Linked DNA regions of Homo sapiens. The protein of the gene in region 2 purifies or fractionates together with the protein of the main gene of each other region. This does not show direct contact. Each region holds a gene or a part of one and is shown on either strand. Other genes may lie near its edges. The genes, in order: MACIR, AVPI1 and UNC119B.

Evidence for each region.
Region 1: the proteins of AVPI1 (region 2) and MACIR purify together in Homo sapiens (co-immunoprecipitation; 2 studies listed by BioGRID and IntAct, with this or other methods). This does not show direct contact.
Region 3: the proteins of AVPI1 (region 2) and UNC119B purify together in Homo sapiens (co-immunoprecipitation; 2 studies listed by BioGRID and IntAct, with this or other methods). This does not show direct contact.

The regions. Positions count from the first base shown.
Region 1 is NC_000005.10:103,253,913-103,261,882, forward strand, and holds the start of MACIR (macrophage immunometabolism regulator), read left to right. Parts: upstream 1-4,850; 5' UTR 4,851-4,984; intron 4,985-5,117; exon of another isoform or gene 5,118-5,283; intron 5,284-5,312; exon of another isoform or gene 5,313-5,365; intron 5,366-5,511; exon of another isoform or gene 5,512-5,879; intron 5,880-5,993; exon of another isoform or gene 5,994-6,104; intron 6,105-7,970. UniProt on the Homo sapiens protein: Regulates the macrophage function, by enhancing the resolution of inflammation and wound repair functions mediated by M2 macrophages. The regulation of macrophage function is, due at least in part, to its ability to inhibit glycolysis.
Region 2 is NC_000010.11:97,677,132-97,684,661, reverse strand, and holds the end of AVPI1 (arginine vasopressin-induced protein 1), read left to right. Parts: intron 1-4,746; 5' UTR 4,747-4,756; coding exon 4,757-5,043; intron 5,044-6,636; coding exon 6,637-6,793; 3' UTR 6,794-7,238; downstream 7,239-7,530. UniProt on the Homo sapiens protein: May be involved in MAP kinase activation, epithelial sodium channel (ENaC) down-regulation and cell cycling.
Region 3 is NC_000012.12:120,705,523-120,713,457, forward strand, and holds the start of UNC119B (protein unc-119 homolog B), read left to right. Parts: upstream 1-4,935; 5' UTR 4,936-4,952; coding exon 4,953-5,196; intron 5,197-7,751; coding exon 7,752-7,865; intron 7,866-7,935. UniProt on the Homo sapiens protein: Myristoyl-binding protein that acts as a cargo adapter: specifically binds the myristoyl moiety of a subset of N-terminally myristoylated proteins and is required for their localization.

The DNA.
Region 1 (7,970 bases), on a different chromosome or scaffold from region 2:
TGCCTGCGTGGGAGTAGGTGTTCTCTGTTCCTTAAAACCTAAGTCTTACCTTGGCAGGCTTTGATGTGAGGAGGCCTGCCTGGCCCGGTTTTGCCTCTTATTGGGTAGGTATATCAGTCTAATTATGGGATTTAAAAAATAGAACCACTGTAATTGTACATTAAACTATGTCCTCCAATGTTACAGAAACAATTGGCGCCACCTTTATGCCTTTTATTTCTCAATTTGTTTGGAATGGGGCAGGAAAGGGGGTGCTACTTGGGCCCTCTTGAAAACCATTTCTCTCACCTCTTAATTTATGAATGAAGGGGCTGAGGCCAACAGAAGTAAAGTTTAATTTGCCCAGATTCAAGTGGTAGTTTATGAGTACCTGTTCTGTGCCAGTCTAGATATTGTAAAGGATACACGTATAAACACAACTCAAGTTTCTTAAGAAGCTTATAATTTAGTGACCAACCGGAGGTCCCACAGCAAGCTGGAACTGAGAAGTGATTTCTCTGTTGTTTATAATGCTGTTATATTTTTGTTTCCTCTATTTTCTATCTTCTTTTTTTATTGATATAATTGAGTTAAATAGGCTTTTCTATGCAAATTATGGAATTTAATTACATTTTCTTTCTATGAAAGAATATTTCTAAAAGCACAGATTTTAATTCTCTGAACTGCTGTCCTCCTCCGCACACAGGAGGGGCCCTTTGAAGATTATCAAATGGTATGCTGGTAAACTGGCTTTCTGGGGGGTGGGGAGATTAGAGAGAAATGGGAAGCCCTGTTTATAGAATTTGCCAATTTCTATGGTGTAAATACTCCTACCATAGCTGATTTCAAGCTACTGATGATTTAACAACCAGTTTGCAAAGTTCCTGAAAATTTAGCAATCAGTACTTCTGAGCCAGATACAAGATACAAGCTGGCTTCAGCAGACCTTACTACAGGTTCTTCTCCCACTCCTCGCAGTAAAAATAGGCTAAATATTTACTGAGCACCTGTTATATGTCAGTCTCTGGGCTTTCTTTGGGGGTTAGACATAGTCTGAGACCTCAGGGAATGTATAGTTTAGAGGGGGAGATAGTATATTTCAGCACTGTGTGGTATTAGGCCAGGGAAATGAGAAATATCAGTAGGAATCAGAAAACTCTTCTTAGAGGTGGTGACATCTACATGAAATCTGAGGAATGGCAAAGAATTAGACTGAGAGGGAGGGGTGGAGAAGAATGCTCCACAGGAAACAATTATGTACAGGCTTAAATAATGAATAAGCAGAATGTGAGTGTGGAGTTAGAAGTGGTCTAGCAAGAGCTGAAGGGCAGCCTGAATTTCCCTCCTGAGCGCCCACTCCACATATCTGGCCTTCTGCTTGACACCTCCATGAGGATGTGCCACAGAGTCACCAAATTCAACATATTCCAAAGTAAGCTCCTTCCACCTTTCTCCTCCTCAGCTTGGTCCACAATACTAACCGTCTCTTACTTCTATGGCTGGATAATATTTTGAGATACTAATTTATGATTTTTTTTCCAACTTGTATTTACCCCCTTGTTGCCTTCGGGAGAGATGTGGCAGGGTAGAGAGGAGTTGCCTGCAGATCATTTTTTCATTCTGGCTCTTACTGAAAACAACCTGAGCCCCCAGAGACAGAATAGAGTTTGCTGGCAATGGCAGAGTGTCTGGGAAAAAAAAAATGAAGAGGAAGGATTTTCCTTAAGAAGTGATTCCCTTGTATCTGGAAAGAAGAGGATAGAAGTCAGTATGTCCCAAGGCAGTGGGATTTGAGCCCTGAACTTGGACCACCATAATACCCTAAACATAAATGACCGAGGATGTGTGAGGCTTAGCAGGATGGTCCCAGATCTAGGAAATTCCTCTGGCCTCAGGTGTGGTGCCGGAGCCAAAGGGAGGGAACCAGTGTATAGGGCAGGGCCGTCTCGTCTATAGGCAGGTTGTGCACTGTATCATGGAACCATAGGTGGCAGCTCCAGGAAGGAACAAAGGAAACCTCTGTGGACAGATGACTGCAATCCGAAGGACCTCCCCTCCACTCCCTGCCATCATCACCCATTCATGGTCTGGTCTGGCATATGCTCTTGGAACTTTGACCCTGCTCGAGGGAATGAGGGAAGAACTTTACAAAAGAGTAAGGCCTTTAAAGAGAAATAAAATCAAGTGCAGATTCACGTTCTATGTTCTTCTCCTAGTCTCCTCAGTGTCTCAAAGGGCTGATCCCCGTAGGCTGTTTCCCTGGCTCCCATGGCAGGTGTATCAGACTTGGCCAATGCAAGGCACTGGAAGGAGATTGGAGGGCAGGAGAGGAGAACGTATAGTACATTTCCCCCTTCTCCCTCCCTAGATTGCTTCTTTGGCAGTGGTTGTTTCTCCTCTATGGCCGCAGCTCTCACCAGGCTGGCCATGCTGCCTGGGCCCTGGACTCCAATAACCCTGCCTCTTCTCTTATTTCTCCAGCTAGAGGTCGCAGTTGCTAGTTTCTGGATTACTGTGCCATCTCCTGATTAGCTTCTGACTTTTCCTATCACCTACGTTACCAATTTCTTGCATTCAATTACTTCTGTAGATACTCAAAATGGTTTCTGTTTTCCTGGTTAGACCCTGCTTGAAACAAATGAGTTTATAGAAAAGAAGGTAATGTGGTATTTCTTGCACACCTGTCTTTGTAGATTCTGTTTTACATCATTATGTTGTTATCAAATTCACCTATTCTGTTCTCTCAAGCTGGTTGTTTGCTAGCCGACATCATTTACATCAACGTAGTATAATATTTCCCAGGCAGCTGACATTTTAAAGTCATTTTAAAGGGATTTTCTGGAAAGGATGCCTTGAGGCAAAGACATAACTTACACAAGGAGTGTGTGAGATGGAGCTTCTGAGTCCCCAAATTCAGAAGGCCTTTCAGGGCTCTGGGTCTATTCTACATTTGGGCCTAACCCTTTATATGAATGCCATTTTTCTTTATAGGTTGAAGAGATCTTCCTAAAACACTAAAAAGCTCTGGGAAGGGATTCTGCATTAACTTGCACCTCTTATATGCCCCTCAGCCACGGCACTTGCAACCCACATCCAATCCGAGTGAAGACAATACCCAGTCAGTATCTCTAGGTGGCATAAACATATCCTTGATGGAGCCACACATAAAGCTATTATCAACCATTACTGCATGGTGAATTGGTTTATTAGGTGTTCTTTGTGACACTCAAGAACTGACTTAGGTTCTGATTGGGTGAAGATTCAGGGTTAGGATGGGAGCATAGAACACCACCCAGGGAGGGAGGCAATTTGGAGACAATGCCCTCAAGAGAGCTAGCCTTGAGCCTAATAAACTAAGAGGGGAACTTTATTGCTTTTGGCCAAAGCACACTGCCAAACTCTCAGCGCAAAGGGCAAGTACAAGACATTCTTCTGAAAAAGTTATAAGATTTCAGACAGGAAGAAATGAAATTAAGTCTCTTAATATAAAATATACAATGTTTTGGAGGTGGTTTTATGAGAATGATCATCAGGACAATACACTATTGTGTCAAACAGATTATAATCGGAAATAATTCTCGGTGTATTCTCCTAATGTACTGATGCAAAAAAAGTTTCTTCATTTATTTATTCATATTATGTTGTGCTAGCTTCTATATTTTTGAAATTACATGCAAATCTATGTCGGGAAAAAAAGTAACTGATGTTTTGTAAAATTGTTTAGGGAACATTCCTTAAAACTTATTCTTCCCTCTACCTTCCTTTACTTATTTTAGGGCACATAAGCAGTAGCATAAAATGGCTTATAGCTGAGCGGCCTCCGGGAGTGGTTCTGTTGGACTAGAGGTGTTTATATATTTTTTGCCTTTATATTATCAGGAACATATGTAGATTCTGGAACAAGTGTGAATCAAGACTCGTTTAAACTTATATTAATCTACTCCAGATTTATGTCTTTTATGTTAAGATAAAGCATTTTGTCTTTTAAAAAATAAAACTCTCTTGATTGGACACTGGTACCGAAATTTATAACACTTATAAACAATTTTGGGGTTCACCGACTGCGTACACATTCAGCCTTAGCCACTCAGTAGGCATATGACCTAAACTTTCTGCATTTTTAAAATGTGGATCATAATTGGTTACTTCCTCACAGAATGGTTATTGAGAGATGTAAATTTGGATATGCATGCCAGTAAATATTCTTATTGCTGAGCTTAACCAGTTCGGCAGAAATGTACATGAATTGAGAGAAGCAAATCTTCATCAAAGAAAATAATTTATTACAATAATAGACAAGATCAACATTTGTGCAAATTAAAAAATAGTTAATCCAATCAGAATCTGAATTTGAACTCCCCCCCCCGCCCCACCCCGCCACCTTCACTGGGTATTACGAGTTTTCGTAGACTGATCCTATAATTTTTAATTTCATGGCCTTCTAGTTTTCTGTACTTTTGCTTAGTGCTGAGCCCTTTAAGCAGAGACTCACAAGTGACAAATATCAGCACACCACTTAACTGAGGAAGCCGGAGTGTTCCCAGGTCCGCAAGTTGGAGCTCTTTAGTTGGAGTGCTGGGTTTAGACTAGAGAGCGGGTGTTGCGACTCCTCCTCCCCACCACCAGTCAACAACCCCGCCCACCCCCGCCAACTTCTTCTGGCCTCTTAGCGCCTTTCTGCAGCCAGCCGGCCCGCCCTTCCTCCGGGTGTCTGAGAGCTGGGCGCAGGAGGCGGGCTCAGCGCTGACGGGCTGCGCCTCTGCAGCCAGAGGGAGGAGGCGGGAAGGCGGGCGGAGGAGGAGGCGGAGGAGGAGGCGGAGGAGGGGGCGGGGACTAAGCAGGGCGGTAGCTGGCGCCGAGCGCGGTGGGAGAGGAGAGGGTACCCGGCTGGCTCGGCTGGCGGCCTCTGCCTGGATCTCGGCGCCGCAGTCCTGCGCCTCTCCCGCCCCTGTCTCCCGCTCCGCAGCCCCGGGCACGGCGGAGGCAGCGGAGCCCTGGGCCATCGGTAGGTTGCACGGGGACGACGGCTCCGTCTGTAACCTTTTGTGCTGCAGAAAAGGTGGTGGTTATGGGGGGCTTGGGGGAGTGGGTTTGCCCCAGGCTCCGATCCCCAGTGCCAGCCCTAATCGCGGCGCCGCCCCTTCCTCTCCGCCTCGTGTCTGGGCCGGGCGCACGATGCCCGCGGTGCTGGGGAAACCCGGCCGGACCAGCTTCTGCGATGGGCGGCGGGGCGGCCCCAGCGTCCCTTGGCCTTGGTGGACCGGTTCCCAGGCACCCGAAGGGGACTGGGGTCTGGTAAACTGGGTGGGGCCCGCGCGGGGTGCGGGGAGCTTGCGGTTCCCTGGCACAGGGGTGGGGCCGCAGACGCCGTGAGTGTGCAGCGCGTGTGAGTGTGCGGGGGCGTGCGCCCCCGTGTGCGCGCGTCGTGCGCTCGCTGGGGAGGTGCGGGGACTCGGCGACCCGGAGCGCCTCTCCCGCGGTGCCGCGGTGCGGAAGTCGGGGCGCGTTGGCGCGCACGCTCGCTCGCTCCCTCCCTTGGCCGCTGTTCCCGCACCGCGGGGCAGCGGGCCTGGAGGCCCCTTTGAGAAGTAGCTTTCCCCGGCCGGCGGCACCTTTGGCTGCGTGCCCGGCCGCGCTCAGGGTGCGACTGCCCGGGTCAGATAGCACCTCAGGGCGAGCCCCGGCGGTCTGATCTCGCCGACCCTCCTCGTCCTGGTTGCAACCCGCGTGCGAGGCCGCCCGCGCCCTCCGAGTGTCTGCCGGTGCAGTGGGGGTGGACTGGCCGGCTGTGGCCGTGTGTGCGCGTGTGGATTGGGGCCCGGTCCGAGCCAGAAGCTTAAGCGGCAGATGTCGGGCATTGCCACCCTCGCCCCACCTGTCGCGGGTGGACTTTGGGGCAGGTGGGAAGCGGAGGAGAGGGGTTTCGAGGCGGGTGGCAGTCAGACCTCCAGCAACGCGGCCCCATTGTGAAGCTGCCAAACTCTCTCTAGTGGTGGAATCTGCAGGTCTCCGCCAGAAAGGAGATGGGAACGCGAAGGGAATGATGGCCCCGTCCTTTTCCCCTTGCTAGTGTTCCACACGCTTAGGGACTCCCTGCCTCTCCTTCCACCTCAGTTTTCAACCCAGTGGGTTACTGATTTGGGTGGAACCAAGATTTCCGTGTGTGTGTGTGTGTGTGTGTGTGTTTGTGTGTGTGTGGTGCACAGGTAAAGCTGGAGCTGGGAACTTTTTATTTGAGCAGGAAGAATGGAGGCATTTTACAGTGTGCTTGCCGCTCCTAGCTGAAAGAACAATTCTTGCATATTTCTGATGTTACTAGACTCATTTTCCTTTTTTTTTTTTTTCCGAAGAGCCAACCTACAATTTAGGGTTGTTAGTTGTTTTATTTTCTCAAATCCTGTAATGCTGGATTGACACTATAGAGGTAGAAATGACCCTTTTGCAAAGTTTATTTTCCCAGTCATTTCAAAATATAGTATTGGTTATTACGGCAGAAGCTTTTGGCCGCGATTTATGATTACACTATTAAGTTTAATGAATGTGTCACAGAATCCTCAGTGTTTTAATTATGTAACTGTGAATGCATTATAAACTGAAAAGTAAAATGAACAGGATGGAATATAAGAGTTAATGAATACAGAGACCTGTTAATTTGATAATAATTGATGTATAGAATATGCTTTTGCTAACAGTTTATTTAATTGCAAATGAAAGTGTTAGTAATTATTTCAGTGTATAAGATATATTTATTGATATTATATAACAGTCAATGAATTTGCTTATTTTCTTTGTATATTTCTGTGTATTTTAGAGAGCTATTATAAAATTAACTCAAAAGTACTTAATATGGTTAGAGTAATAAAGCTTTATGTACAGGGTTTAAAATTTCTTTGCTGATTTGTAGCTGGGGGTGAGGTGGGGGATCAGCTCCTTTCCTCCAGAGAGAACTTTGATTTTGTCACCAGCCTATCAAAATGAGTACCTGGTTTTAAGCCTTCCCAAAGATTAGCCAATTCCACAGTGTACACCTGTTCCATTTTGATGATACTTCCTAAGAGACAAATTTCTTGTAAAGGCTGCATGTTGACCTTTAGTTCCACTTACTGTCGGTCATATTTGCAGTGAAACTGAGTATTTTTCTAAAAGTAGAAGGATGACACCACGTGATAAGAAGATATTAGTAACCTAGGTTTAATTTTTACTAGCAGAAATGGAAAGATAATGAGTGCTGCACTTTAAGGGGGTGGATTGCTATTAAAAGAACTGATACTAGAAAGAGAAACACATTTTTGTCTTACTGAACGAATTATGGGTTATCTTACAAAGTTGGCAAGGTTAATGGTTTGTTTGTAAGGTCAAGGATGGTTTCAGAAAAGTCACACCCTAGTTAACTCTTCTTAAAGAGTATTGATGACTTACTTTTTGCAAGTTGCAAATGGTAAAGTAAGAATATTTGAAAGAAGCCTCTAAGATGAGCATCTAGGTGCAGCTAAACATTTTGTTTTCATTGTTGTGTTGTACTTTGACAGTTAAGCCATTTTATTTCTGCTTAGTGTTCAGTTAGTATTCCTCCAGAGATGTTTTGGTTCATCTTTTACTTGTTTTTAGTGGTCTTTGAGATTAGTGGTTACAAAATATTTTCACTATTTTGAAAGAATTTTTAAAAATTGATGTTTTTTTTCCAAGTGCTTTTCCATTAGTGGTCTCTTCTTAAATAGCCACTCTGAAAATACTACCTGTTTTTCTTTTTCTTTCTTTCTTTCTTTCTTTCTTTCTTTCTTTCTTTCTTTCTTTCTTTCTTTCTTTCTTTCTTCCTTTCTTTCTTTCTTTCTTTCTTTTCTTTCTTGAAAATGTTTTGGTGGGCTTCAGGTTAGGGCCATGAAAAAAATGAAAATAAATGTTTTGATAGCTAGAATTAGAACTCACAGCTTCTACTGTACCAATTTCTCTGCCTAAAATTTGTCCTTTCATAATATAAACTTTAATGATGA
Region 2 (7,530 bases):
CGGGCGTGTGGTGGGCACCTGTAATCCCAGCTACTTGGGAGGTTGTTGAGGCAAGAAAATTGCTTGAACCTTGGAGGCAGAGGTTGCAGTGAGCTGAGATTGCGCCACTGCACTCCAGCGTGGGTGACAGAGTGAGACTCCGCCTCAAAAAAAAAAAAAAAAAAGAGTAAAAAGAGTGAGGGGCCTCAAAATCTGGAGGTGCTAGGCCCTCCCTAAGGTTCAAGGAGGGTTGAGGCTGGAGGCTCAGACTCTCCCTGAGGGTTTCTTGGTATGTTTGTGACTCGCAGCTCGCTGAAGCTGTGGAGTCAAAGCCTTGCCATCCTGGGAGAGGTTGTTGGGAAGTCAGGCTCCAAGCCATTTCCTCCCCGAGGCAGCTGCTGCTACATGATCCTTATTGCCCTTCTTTTCCTGGGGAGGTGAGGCCAGATATCACCCTTTCTCCTACTACCCCAGACCTGCCTAGGCGTCTGCCCCGGGCTTGGTCATTGCCAGCTGAGGTCACTAGGGAGCTTTAGAGCTGTGAGTTCTGTTTTCTACCAGATGCTAACCCCAGGGCCCACTGCAGCAAAACAACATAGAGTAGGGAGGAGAAAGGGAGCTACTGGCTGGGGAATTTCCTAGCACCCAGTTAGCCAGACCTGTCCACACATTGCCCCTAGGCTTTGGCAGACAAGTAGCTCCGTTCCTCCTTCTGTACAGACTTACCTGCGGGTGGAATTGTTGACTCTCAGCACTGGTGCAGGCCCTCAGAAACAAACAGCATCAAGCTGTTCTTATAGCAGTAACAGGGAAGCTGACCCACAGAGGGGATGTGAATTGCCTGAGGTTTTTCAGCCAGTGAGTGGCAGAAGTAGGGCTTGAACCGACTCCTCTGACTCGTAAGCCAGGGCTCTGTGCACTGGGCTGGGTTGCAGTTCTTGATTTCTTCTGTGGAAGCTGGGCTCTTCCTCTTTAGAGTGCTACGGCTCAAGGCTGGGCTGTCACCCAGGAAAGAGCCCTGACCCTAGAGAACAGACTAACGAAATTCCACAGCTCCACCCCTGCCTCCACCAGGTGGGATAATTCATTGTCCTTCCCTTTCCATTGGTAGGATTTCCCCTTCATGAATTAGGTGGGAATAGGAAAGCATTCTTCATAGAAATGTGAAGTGTTCTTTAAGCTGCCTGGCTGTGAAGCCAGCTCGGGGGTTTAAAAGCGTGGGCTGACCGGGCGCAGTGGCTCACACCTGTAATCACAACACTTTGGGAGGCCAAGGCGGGTGGATCACCTGAGGTCAGGAGTTCAAGACCAGCCTGACCAACATGGTGAAACCCTGTCTTTACTAAAAATACAAAAAATTAGTCGGGAGTGGTGGGGGACGCCTGTAATCCCAGCTATTCGGGAGGCTGAGGCAGGAGAATCACTTGAACTCAGGAGGTAGAGGTTGCAGTGAGCTGAGATTGCAACACTGCACTCCAACCTGGACAACAAGAGCAAAACTCACTCTCAAAAAAAAAATAAAAATAAAAGCATGGGCTGCAGTCATTTGAACCACCTCTGGCCTCGGCTAAGCCACTGGTACTCATATTTGCATCTTAGCTTCCCTTTACTTCCCTGTGAAATGGGATAACAGTCCCTAACTCCTAGAATTGTTTTGAGGATTAAAGGATATCATACGTATTGCCTGATCCAGAGTAAATATCCCATAGTTAGCTTTTCTTTTTATCAGCCTAAAAGTGTTACTTGGCGACTGTTGTCTTCTTGTCACAGTGTGTTTATGTCATCCAGCTCTGGGGGCTTAATTACCATATAGATTAGGTTTTAACTGGATTTTCATAATAGCACCTAAGGAGAGGCAGATTTTTAAATTTCCATTTTCCAAATAAAATACAATTTTCATGACGTTAACTCATCTGGAAGTCTTCTGCAGCTTTATTGTAGTTGTTAAATCTTTTGAAAACAGGGTGGAGTTTTTATGATAGAAGGCCTGGAAACTGGGACAGAGTGAGCATAGAAATGATTGGGATAATGAGGGTGACTATTGAGGTGAGGAGCGGAGAAGGCCAGGGCAAGGGGGGGAGTCATATTTTGGGAGTATGAGTGGGGCGGAGACAATTCAAACTCTTACAGAGAACAAAAGGCAGGTTAGGGGAAGGGTTACTTCTGCAAGTGGGTTGATAGGAAATTGGAAAAGTTTTTATATATAAGCTTTTGTACTGTTTGCCTCTTATGATGAGCATGTAAATATTTTAATTTAAAAATATTTTAATGTTCCTTTTCCCCTTTTGGAAGCTGGTTGCTGTTGACAGCTGTCTCTGTAGCTGGCTGTGGAATGAGGTCTGACTTAGGCAACCAGGCCCTGGAGAAGCAGCAGGACCTGCTCCTCCTCTCCCCAGCAGGCCTGGGGCTGGGAGAGATGGGTGGGAGCACAGGCCTGTCATCAGCTGGCTGTGCCACACAGCTTAGAGGAAAGAGGAGGGTTTACCTGTACCCCTGACCCAGGTACAAAGGTCACAGAGGCCAACAGAGGAGGATTTGCGTTTATAAATTCCTCAGTATCCATGGAGGGTGGTTCCAGGCTCCTCCGTGGGACGCTTAAGTCACTTACATAAAATGCCATGTTGGCCTATAGACTGCGCACATCCTCCTGCATGCTTTAAATCATCTCTAGGGTACTTATAATACCTAATACAATGTGAATGTTTTGTAGTTACAATGTATCTATTTTTTATTTGTATTTTTTAATTGTTGTATCATTGTATTCTTTTTTTCTTTTTTTTTTTTTTTTCTTTTTTTTTGAGACGGAGTCTCGCTCTGTCGCCCAGGCCGGACTGCGGACTGCAGTGGCGCAATCTCGGCTCACTGCAAGCTCCGCTTCCCGGGTTCACGCCATTCTCCTGCCTCAGCCTCCCGAGTAGCTGGGACTACAGGCGCCCGCCACCGCGCCCGGCTAATTTTTTGTATTTTTTAGTAGAGACGGGGTTTCACCTTGTTAGCCAGGATGGTCTCTATCTCCTGACCTCATGATCCACCCACCTCGGCCTCCCAAAGTGCTGGATTACAGGCGTGAGCCACCGCGCCCGGCCGTATTCTTTTTTTTAAGACGGAGTTTTGCTCTTGTTGCCCAGGCTGGAGTGCAATGGCGGGATCTCGGCTCACCGCAACCTCTGCCTCCTGGGTTCAAGTGATTCTCCTGCCTCAGCCTCCCGAGTAGCTGGGATTACAGGCATGCGCCACCACGCCCGGCTACTTTTGTATTTTTAGTAGAGACGGAGTTTCTCAATGTTGGTCAGGCTGGTCTTGAACTCCTGACCTCAGGTGATCCGCCCGCCTCACCTCCCAAAGTGCTGGGATTACAGGTGTGAGCCACCACGCCCAGCCATATCATTGTATTCTTAAATTTTTTATTTATCCTCTTATTGGGTAACTGATATAATTTTATTTAGCTCTTATTGGGTAACTGATATACTGGGCTCATTTATCCTTACTATAACCCTAAGAAGTGGGTAATCTTATCCCCATTTGACAGTTAAGGAAACAGGCTCAGAGACGAGGTTGGGTAACTTGCTTAAGGTGTCAGAGTTGGAACTCAAAACCTGTTCTATGTAATGCCAGGCTTCCCTTGTTTCCAGGCTGTGCTGGAGACAAGGATGGGTGGGTAAGCTTCTTAGGCCTTTATTATTCAAAGTGAACTATCTAGAATCAAGGGAGATCCTTTAATTTTCACTTCCTGGATATGATGGGAGACATTGACACAGAGTCTAACTTCTATTGAACTTTCTTATAAGTTTCAGTCTCTGCCCTTGACAGTATATTCTAACCCTTGTAGCCTCCTCTTCTGCCTCCACCTCTTGCTCATTAGGTCCACTGGACTGTGGTTAGATCTGATTGGCTCATTTCATACTATGTTTGCTAAATTATACAGATTTGGTTCATCCCCAGGGTCTTAAAGATAGGAGGTGGGATGATGTCTCAATTTTATAGATTGAAAACACTGACCACTATTCTATATACTTTGTCTTCCTTCAATCTTCAAATTAATCCTACAAAGTAGGTAGTAGTACTAGGTGATAATTTGACACGGGAGGCAGCTGAGGCAGGGGGGATGCCCAGCCAGTAAGTGGTGGAGGGGGTAGAAGTGGGATTCCAACTCGGGTAGCCCAGCTCCACAACTCCTCTCTTACCTTTGTGCTACGGCACCTGGGCCTTAGCATCAGAGAGGCCTGGGTTCTCATCCTAGTTGCAGAACCATGGATGACTTAACCTTTCCTCAGATTCCTCATCTGTGAAATGAGGAGGATTAAAATACCTACCTTACAGGGCTGTTGTGCTTGTTACATCTCATTGATACTATGTGAAGCAAGCTGTTACAGGTGCCTGGTATAAGTACTCAACACAGTTGAGCTGCTACTGGGCATCCTGGCGTCTGCATGGAATCTACAGCTAGACAGACCTGGGTTCAACTGCTGGCTCTGCATGTGCACGTGGCTTTGTGACGCTGGCAAGTCATTTAACCCCTCTGAGTTGCACTTCTTCATCGGTAAAATGAGGATAAACAATAATTCTTACCTCATGGGTTGCTTTGAATCCTAAATGAGATAATATGGGGGTCTGACACATAAGTGCTTAAGTGATTTTAAGGCAGGAGACTTCCTCCAGTTTAGCTCTTGGAGAATGGAAACATCAGAAGCCCTAGGATTAGCCAGGACCCCCAGGTCTGGGAAGGACCAGCTGAGTTGATGATGTCTCCATGCTTTGCATCCTCAGAGCATCCACAATGGGTACCCCAGCCTCGGTGGTCAGTGAGCCACCCCCTTGGCAGGCCCCGATTGAGGCCCGGGGCCGCAAGCAGGCCTCGGCCAACATCTTCCAGGACGCCGAGCTGCTGCAGATCCAAGCCCTGTTTCAACGCAGCGGGGACCAGCTGGCCGAGGAACGGGCACAGATCATCTGGGAATGTGCAGGGGACCACCGTGTGGCTGAGGCCCTCAAGAGGCTGCGCAGGAAGAGGCCCCCAAGGCAGAAACCCCTGGGCCACTCGCTACACCACTGCAGCCGCCTCAGGTAGGTTCCTAGAACCGGATGGCTGAGGGAAGAGCACTAATGCCTGTTCCACCACTGCATGGCTGTGTGGCCTGGAGCTAGTTACTTGGCCTCACTGTAAAGTGCCTGCCCACCATTGGGGTGGTTATAAGGTCTACACAGTGTCACCACTTGGTTGGCACTTAAGAGATTGCTGTTGGTGGGTGCAGTGGCTCATCCCTGTAATCCCAGCACTTTGGGAGGCCGAGGCAGGCAGATCACTAGGTCAGGAGTTTGAGACCAGCCTGACCAACATGGTGAAACCCTGTCTCTACTAAAATTACAAAAATTAGCTGGGTGTGGTGGCACACACCTGTAATCCCAGCTACTCAGCAGGGTGAGGCAGGAGAGTCACTTGAATCTGGGAGGTGGAGGTTGCAGTGAGCTGAGATGACGCCACCGCACTCCAGCCAGCCTGGGTGACAGAGCGAGACTCTGTCTCAAAAAAAAAAAAAAAAAGATTGCTGTTACTTTTGGAGTCATATACAACCCTGTGAACTCCCATGGAAAGAGATGCCTGAGTCCTAGTAGCATCACCTCATTCTGCCGTTATTCTCAGCTTACCAGCCTGGGCAACATGGCGAGATCCTGTCTCTGAAAACACACACACACACACACACACACACACACACACACACACACACACACACACACACACACACACACACACACACACACACACACACACACACACACACACACACACACACACACACACACCCTCCCCCCGCCAAAAAAAAGAGAAATTAGCCAGGCATGGTGGCATGCACCTGCGGTCCCAGCTACTCCAGGGGCTGAGGTAGGAGGATCACTTGAGGCCAGGAGTTTGAGGCTGCAGTAAGCTATGATCCTGTCACTGCACTCCAGCCTGAGTGACCTGAGTGACAGAGTGAGATTCTCTTTTTTTTTTTTTTTTAAGCCTAATTAAAATCTTGGCTGGGGGATTACAGAGAATATAGCCTAGGAATGTACTGTCGAGGCATTATGGGTTAAAAATTGTTGAAAACTTTTACCTTGAGATCTCTCCCCAGTCTCCCTGGTGGGCCACTTCTTTGCCTAGGCCACTGCCAGCCCAGGAAGAGTGAACCCAAAGGGATGGAGCTGAACCACTTGGCCTCAACCAATCACTATGGGTGATGCTCTGGGCTTCATCTCTCTGCTGCCTTCTCTGGGGCCCACAATCAGAACATCAGACCTAAACAGGCCTTTGGAGGTCATCAGGTCCTGAGATGGCAAGTCAGTGTCATAGCTTGTATTTAACTCCAGTTAATTAGTAGTCACTGCTTATCAAACCAGTTTAATAGCATGACTTATGACATCTGCCATGAGTACAGGATGAGGATGAAGAAATGTTGAGTTTTGCACAACCTGATCTGGTCCAACCCTTTCTACTGCAGAGAAATCTGTAAACTTTGTCTAGTCAGACAGTTCTCAGAGGGGGAAAGACCAGAGCAGAGCCCCGCTCTCATTTTGCTCCAAATCATATGTTTTATGGTCCACCATGACGAAATCTCTTGAAGTCCCCATTCCATTCTTCCTATTGATGTTGGCTAATCATACACTTGTTCTCTGCAGAATCCTGGAGCCCCACTCTGCACTGGCCAACCCACAGAGTGCCACAGAGACAGCCTCCAGTGAGCAGTATCTGCACTCTAGGAAGAAAAGTGCCAGGATCCGCCGGAACTGGAGGAAGTCAGGCCCCACAAGCTACCTCCACCAGATCAGACACTGATCCAGGGAAAGAGCCAGGAATGGCAGTGTCTTCCCTCTTGCCAAAAGGCCTGGGGAGGTGAAGGAAGAGAGACTTTAGGCAAGCAGCCCAAAGGGGTAAATGAAAGCAAGAGGCTGCTGCCACTGACCTGCTCCATTCAGAACAAGACTGGATGCTTCTGTTGAGCTCTCCATTATGTGGGACCCATTCCTCACCAAAATGAGGAGAGACAGTGACTGTTCCTGCCACAGTCCTTCCCAGTCTAACACTATTCCTGGGCTGCATGATATTCCCCTGGGAGCAAAGTGACAGGCACTTAGATGCAGCATTTCACCACTCATGCTACTAATCATCTACCTGCTACTACTGTAAACCATGGTTCCAGCAGCCTGTTCCACACCCCCACACCATCAGGATAGCACAGGGAAACTGTAGTTTAAGTGGCAAATAAAAACATTTGCATCAAGAGCTGTGTGAGTCTGTCACAGAAGGGGAGGAAATGAAACAGAGTGGGAGGGGCAAGAGTGTCCCCAGGAAGGAAAAATCAGGGCTGGCCTCCTCTCTCCTTTTCACCTCCCTCTCCTTTTTCACCCCCATGCTGAGCCCCTGGACCACAGCCTCCTTTTCCAGAGTCTGTTGGATCGGGAGTAAAGAGGGGAGTCTCTGCAGCAGTCCTGATCCATAGGATCAGGAGAAGGGGGAAGACTGTCATGGTCAGCCCAGCACAGTAGGCTGAGGCCTTGGGCTGGCTTAATCTG
Region 3 (7,935 bases), on a different chromosome or scaffold from region 2:
GGAGGCAGAGGTTGCAGTGAGCCAAGATCATGCCGTTGCACTCCACCCTGGCAACAGAGCAAGACTCCTTCTTAAAAACAAACAAACAAACAAACAAACAAACAGCCCTCAGCCAGATAGTAGAGTGACTTGGTACTAAGGAAATTACTAGCTCTTAGTCCCAGACCACAAGCCATGCCTGCAATCCCAGCCATGATTTGCTAATTCAGTGCATGCCATCTGGGGAGGCAGCAGAAAGCAGGACTGAACTTTCAGTCTTGGCAGAAAAATGCCAGCTGATGATGTCTTGCTTACCTTGGTTACACCAGCTCTGGGCCCCACCTGCCTGGCCTGATTTGAAGGCAGACTGCCTGGCTACTCTGGGACTGCCCTGGAAAACAGCCACTCTCACACCTCTTACAGGGAGGAAAACAGCCAGCGGGAGAGAGTCAGCCCTGAGCTGGGGGGAAAGGAAGGCTGGCCCTCTGCTTTTGGTGTCAGGATTACTATTTAATGCAGTAGTCCTCTATTTTCCTTCTTCCCCCAAATAAAGTGTTAGTATATGTAATTTTCAAAAGACATTTTAAAAGAGCCTTTCCCCACACCTCAAAAAATTTGATGTGGAAAGGCAGATTGGCGGTTACACCCCTAATTTTTCCTACCCCTTTAAAAAATGAAATTATATATATTTCCTTCCCTTTCCCTTTCCTTCATTTCCTTCTTTCTTTTCTCGTTTCCTTCCTTTCCCCCCGTCCTTTCTTACAGTCTCACTCTCACCCCTCGAACTTCTGGCCTCAAGCAATCCTCTGGCTTTGGCCTCCCAAAGTGTTGGTATTACACGCATGAGCCACTGTGCCCAGCCAGTCTATTCCTTTTAACCAAAATTCATAGGTAGTGCCCAGAGAGAGTACAAGCTCTGACTCATATGGCAGTATTTACTTAAAAAAAAAAAAAAATGCCAGGCATGGTGGCTCACGCCTGTAATCCCAGCACTTTGGGAGGCTGAGGCAGGCGGATCGCCTGAGGTCAGTTCAAGGCCAGCCTGACCAACATGGTGAAACCCCATCTCTACTAAAAATACAAAAATTAGCTAGGTATGGTGGTGGGCACCTGTAATCCCAGCTACTTGGGAGGCTGAGGCAGGAGAATCGCTTGAACCTGGGAGGCGGAGGTTGCAGTGAGCCAAGATTGTGCCACTGTACTCCAGCCTGGGCGACAGAATGAGACTCTGTCTCAAAAAAAAGAATAATAAAAATAAAAAATAAAGTAAAATAAAAAAACAGGCCAGGCACAGTGGCTTACGCATGTAATCCCAACACTTTGGGAGGCTGAGGCAGGTGGATCACAAGTTCAGAAGATCGAGACCAGCCTGTCCAACGTGGTGAAACCCCGTCTCTACTAAAAATACAAAAATTAGCTGGGCATGGTGGCGCGTGCCTGTGTTCTCAGCTACTTGGGAGGCGGAGGCAGGAGAATCGCTTGAACCCAGGAGGCAGAGGTTGCAGTGAGCCGAGATTGTGCCACTGCACTCCAGCCTGGGTGACAGAGCGAGACCCGTCAGAAAAAAAAAAAAAAAAATTAAGTTTGAGGTTGCTTTTAAATTTTAAAAGATTTGTAAGGCAACTTTGGCATAGAGTTTGCCTTCCAGACACAGATCCAAAAGTATTTTCTTTTCTTTTTTTTTTTTTTGAGACAGAGTCTTGCTCTGTTGCCAGGCTGGAGTGCAGTGGCGCGATCTCAGCTCACTGCAACCTCCACCTCCCAGGTTCAAGCGATTCTCCTGCCTCAGCCTCCCAAGTAGCTGGGACTAAAGGAGTGTGCCACCATGCCCGGCTAATTTTTGTAGTTTTAGTAGAGACGGGGTTTCACCATATTGGTCAGGCTGGTCTCGAACTCCTGACGTTGTGATCTGCCTGCCTCGGCTTCCCAAAGTGCTGGAATTATAGCCGTGAGCCACTGCACCTGGCCGGTATTTTCTTTTTAAAAAAGTATACAAGCAGCCCATGATTATATGCTTGAGATAAAATAGTACAGAAGTAGTAGTTCTAAATAATGTCAAAAGTGAATATATTTCCTTTAGTCTCTTCTGATACTCTCCTCCCCAGACGTAATCAAAGTTAATGTTTTAATGTATATCCAGACCTCTTCCTTTACAGTTACAAATGCATATTTATATTTATGTCTATGTCTATCTGTGTTTTTTTTTTTTTTTTTTTTGAGACAGGGTCTCACGCCCATGGCCCAGGCTAAAGTGCAGTGGTGCGATCTCAGCTCACACAGCCTCGGCTTCCTGGGCTCCGGTGATTCTCCCACCTCAGCCTCCTGAGTAGCTGGGACTACTGGCATGCACCACCACGCCCAGCTAATTTTCGTATTTTTAGTAGAGACGGGGTTTTGCCATGTTTCCCAGGCTGGTCTCGAACTCCTGGGCTCAAGCAATTTGCTCACCTTGGCCTCCCAAAGTGCTGGGATTACAGGCATGAACCACCACACTCGGCCCACATCTAAATATTTATATACTTTTTATTTTAAATAAATGGGATTCGCGGCTGGATGCAGTGAGCTGTGATTGTGCCACTGCACTGCAGCCTGGGTGACAAGAGTGAGACCCTGTCTTAAATAAATAAATACACAAATATGACTCTGTGCCTTGCTTTTTGCCCTACTTAATATATGTTTGAGATCTTTCCATACTAATATATATGTCTCATTTTTTAAAACAGCTCTATGTAACGTGAATGGATACAAATGTAATTTATTGTAATTTGTCAATATTACAAATCTCTGTGCATGCAGGTAGGGTAAATTCCTAGATGTGGAATTGCAGGTGAAGAGGTTACATTTGCCATCATCCCTAGAAAGAGAAAAGCCATGGTCCAGGTAACTAGTCTTGGTGCTATGAGAACAAACCTTCCGTAAATAAGTATATGGGAAATGACCACATGCTAAACCACCCTCTTGGCCATTCACAATCAAGTAGCATATTAAAAGTTCTGGAAATTCTTCAGTAACCACTCTGTTGAGTGGTTTAAAAAGAGTTGTTTGTAAAAGGAAAGACTTTAATTCTTTGTACACATTTATTAAAATCTCCCTGAACAGTTAGTTAAATGCCACCATATACTAATCTCTCAAAGACAGTACAGCATTTGGGTAGGAATTTGGCCACACACTATGCCACCCAATTGGGCAGCTGGGGTGGGGTCAGGTTTGGACTTTGTCCAGGAACCAAGAGATGCCTGTCTTGGTGGCTTTGGTGAGAGGGACTCAGCAAGCAAGGCCTGGCAAGAACGTCAAGAGGCTCTGGGGGACGGTTGCAATTTTACTCTAGCCTGGCTGAGAGGTGATGTCAGACCTAGCAGACACACTGCATCAATCAGGCCCAGGCCTCCAACACAGAACAGTGCAGATCTAGAATCCCTAGAGAAGGAGCCCCTCAGGGTGGAAGACGGTAGACCACATCCCCCTGTTGACCCACTTCTGGCTAATTGGTGAGGTCATGGCTAACTTCCAAAGCTCAGTGCAGATATTGCCTCTGAAAACTTCCGAAGCCCTCAAGCTTTTACAGCCAGGTCAGAATAAACCACTCCTGTGTGTTCTCCTAGCACCTTTGCTGCATCTCTTAGTGCAGTCAGTGAATCTAGTTTGTCTTCCAGTTCATACTAACCTACCTTGTGAAAAGGAAGGGTCACATAATGAATTGTGTACTTTACAGTCTTCTCTAACAAAAGTGGGAGCTCTTCCATAGTGGGATACTGTTCAGGCTCTCATTCAATCATTACTGAGCACCTACCACGTGTCAGGCATTAGCTGAACTGCTGGGAATTCAGGGGTGAGGCAGACCCAATCCCTGCCCTCACTCTTACATCTCCTGTAGCCTAGCCCAATGTCTAGCCCAGGGCCTGGCACAGTAGGGCTTACGGATGGCAATCTCATTGGAAAGTTTGTCTTGAAACTGCCTTTGCAAAACAAACACTGCTTTAACTTACCTTCTATGCTAAATATATTAATAAACATTTTCTCAAGATGCATTGTCCACTAATAGCTTAGTGTTGAAGAACAGGCCTTGGGTCAGATGGACCTGGATTAAAATCCCTGTTCCCTCCTCTTACTGCTTGAGGGACTTTGGACATGTTACCTGACTTCTCTGAACTTGAGCTTCCTGATCTGTAAAATGGAGACAGTAATACCTCACAGGGTTGTTGTGAGGTGAGGAGCCTGCCCTATAGCAAGTGTCCTGCCATATAGCAAGTGCGCAGTAAACACTGGCCATTCTTCTTCTTGGTGTGATTACTGGGAATTAGTTGCCATTGTGCTGTTGGGACTGGTGACAGAACTCTTGGATTGAGAATGCCGAGATGGTGCACGGAAGATTCTGTGTGCTCTTTCAGACCAGGAGGAGGATGAGGAGGAGGAAAGTTTATATGACGTAAATTCATTTGACCGTAAGATATGTATTTAAACATCGTGGAGGATCTTGGGGGTCTGATGGGGAGTGGGGTTGCTGAAGCTCCAGCCACCCCTAGGCCCTCCACCTGGCAGGACCAAAGTTGGGGCAGTAGCCGAAGCACCGCCCCCCGGGCCCCGCAGGAGTGTGCAGTCACCCAGTTAGGCCTATCTTGGCCTGCCCATCACTCCTGGCCTGCGGTCTCCTAACCCTGTGGCAGCAGCAGCATTCCCTGAATGGATCGAAGGCTGCCATGGTGTCGTCCGCTGAATTGCTATAGGAGTCAGCCCAGGGCTGCTCATGTGCACCTCAGGTTGCTGATGGCAGCTCTAGTTATTTGGGGATGGAAGTTTGGGGAGAGTGGGCCTTGGTCCACCCTGTGCGAAAGGGAATTCCACAGCCCCCCGGGCGCCCGCCCCCGCCCCCGCCCCGCCCCCTCCCCGCCCCTTCCCCGCCGGGCCCCGGGCCCCGCCCCCGCTCTCCATAGTTACCGCGCTGTGGAGGCGGCGGCCATCTTGGCGGCGGAGCGATGAGCGGGTCTAACCCGAAGGCTGCGGCCGCGGCGTCGGCGGCTGGGCCCGGGGGGCTGGTGGCTGGCAAGGAGGAGAAGAAGAAGGCGGGCGGCGGCGTCCTGAACCGCCTGAAGGCGCGGCGGCAGGCGCCCCACCACGCGGCCGACGACGGCGTCGGGGCAGCGGTCACGGAGCAGGAGCTGCTGGCGCTGGACACCATCCGGCCCGAGCACGTCCTGCGCCTCAGCCGGGTCACCGAGAGTGAGTGCCGCGCGGGCCGCGCCCTCCCCTCGCGCCGTGCCCCGGCTCCCGGAGCCTTCAGCGGACCCGGCCACTTGACCAGCGCGGGGGTCCCCGCCAGACCCCCTCGGCCGGCCGGGCCGCGCTTCCCGCTGCCCCGCCGGCCGGGCTTTGCTCCCGCCACGCTCACGTAGCTCTGGTGGGGAAGGACTCTCCTGGGCTGGACCGCATTCCTGTGAGTCCGGCCACGCTAGGATGCCCTTCGGCCGGTCGGCTCCCCAGCTCTGCCGGACCTGTTTGGGTAGAGGGCCCCGTTCAGCTGAACTGGATCCTCCTGAGCCGGCCGGGGGCCGAGGTCCCCTAATAAATGGGCCCCTGGGCCCTCAGCCTGGAACCCCCGGCCATCAGTGAAGTTCCCGCTCAGCCAGGCTCCCCCAGCCCTCTGGCAGGCCAGAAGCCTTACCTGCTTCCTCCGCCCTGGCCCCATGGCAGCCCTCCCCCATTGCAGCCTGCCCGGCCTCCCTCCCTCTTTGGGTCGGGAGCGTTGCCCCTTAGTGTGCAGATGGGTTCTTCCTCAAAACACATAGCCGTGGCATTTCCTGCTCATTTAAAACTGTGCCACATTAAAACAAAAATAAAGTTTCAGTTTGTGTACAGACTCCGACATGTGAATCCTGCTTTTGACATTCTCGTGAATTAAGAATGATTTCAGAGTTTCAGAAATGCGTTTCCTGCACAAAAGGCAACCATCCTAAGCTTTTTCGTTGATAGGAGGATGGGTGGGAAGAAAAATGTTGCCCAGTCCCTGCCCTGGGTGATCTCCCTTTTTCTGTTCTCTGCCAAGCCAGTCCCTGACTTGACGTCTTTTCTCTTGCTGCTGTTTTCCCTGCAGGAGTGTGCACTCACCTAGTTAGGCCTATCTTGGCCTGCCCATCACTCCTGGCGTGCAGTCTCCTAACCCTGTGGCAGCAGCAACATTCCCTGGATGGATCGAAGGCTGCCATGGTGTCTGCTGAGCTGCTATAGCAGGCAGCCCAGGGCTGTTCAGGTGCACCTCAGGTTGCCGATTGCAGCTCTAGTAATTTGGGGATGGAAATTTGGGGGGAGTAGGCCTTGGTCCACCCTGTGCGAAAGGGAATTCCCATTTCCTAAAAGAGTTTTAATTTGATTCTAGATATTTGGATGCCCCCGTTTCCCAATACTGTTTGGGTTGAGACTGTCCTTACCAGACCTGAACGTATCTTTAGACATTCTTGTTAGTTTTATTGAAACAGTGTGAAAAAGCTTCTTTTCTTCTGAACCAGTTTTCATTTGGGGCTCTGAAAGTACAGATGCTCAGCACCTGGTCTTGGTAACCTCATGCCCTCTCCTGCCATCCAAGTGAGTTAGGGTATTCTGTGCCTGGCCCTAAGCAGGATTCTCAGTGGGCACTCAGATCCTATCTGGGGGCTTGGGATTGTTGCTCATTGTCCAAACCCACCTCTGCAGCTTCTTAGAGTCTGGCAACCTCTTTGTTACTCTTCTTAACGTCTCGTTCATTCTATCCAGCAGATTATTTGAGTACCCTCTAAGAGTCCAAAGCCAATGTTAGCCTTTTTAGCAGTTACAGAATAATCAGTAGTTGTCAAGTTTGTCGTCTTAATAAAGAGACAACTTGTAAAACACGAAAACAACTAACTCAGGCAATAAAAGATCAAGTATCAAAATGAGCTGTGGAGAAGATGCTATCCGGAATCATCCTAGAAAGAAATCAGTGAAATTTGCTGTGATTAGAATTATTTCAATTTGCGGCTCATGTTCTAGTCACTTGGGCCTAATGTCTTCACCGGCAGATTTATCCTCTTGCCTGGATATGTATGATATGTATTGTCTACTGTATGATTTTGTGTAGCCCACAAACTAAGATTAGGTTTGTACATTTTTAAATGGTTGAAAAAAACTTTAAAATCTTGAGACACGTGGTTATGTAAAATTCATATTTCAGTGTCCATAAATACAGTTTTACTGGAATATAGCCACATTCATTCATTTGCGTATTGTCTGTGGATGCTTTTGTGGCTACAATGATAGAGTTGAGTAGTTGTGACAGAGACCATGTGGCGGCAAAGCCTAAATTATTTAGAATCTGGCTCTACAGAAAAGTTTGCTGATCTCGGCTTTCTTACACTGACAGTTGGCAAACTAACGTTGGCAAACTAGCACTGTATTATCTGCTAAGTCAGTTTAAATGTCTTAGATTGGAATTCTATAAAAAGTTCGCCCTGTTCTGACATCCAACTTGATAGATGATGAAAGATTTTTATGTGTTTCCAAAGAAATCCACCTTTTCTATCCTAGTTTCTAAAAGTTTTGCAATTTTTCATCCAAAGCAAGTCCTTGTTATTTTTTTTCTTTGTTGGATCCCCTAATTCTGTCCATACAACTTCTGCTGGTGATAACACATGAGAAAGTTTTTGGGAGTATTTTAAGTGTGTTGTGTAAGAAAAAATCTGAGTTTGCTTCAAAACTTGAGAATTAAATAAATGGTAGTTTTGGAGGATTATTTAACAGTGTTGGTTTCTCTCTCTTGTTTTCAGATTATTTATGTAAACCCGAAGACAACATCTACAGTATTGATTTCACCCGCTTCAAAATTCGAGATTTGGAGACAGGGACAGTACTTTTTGAGATTGCCAAACCTTGCGTTTCAGGTAGGCCTCTACGTTGTGGTGACCACTAGACAGTTTTGAGCCAAAGGTCTTTGAAACTCAAATCTTTGTG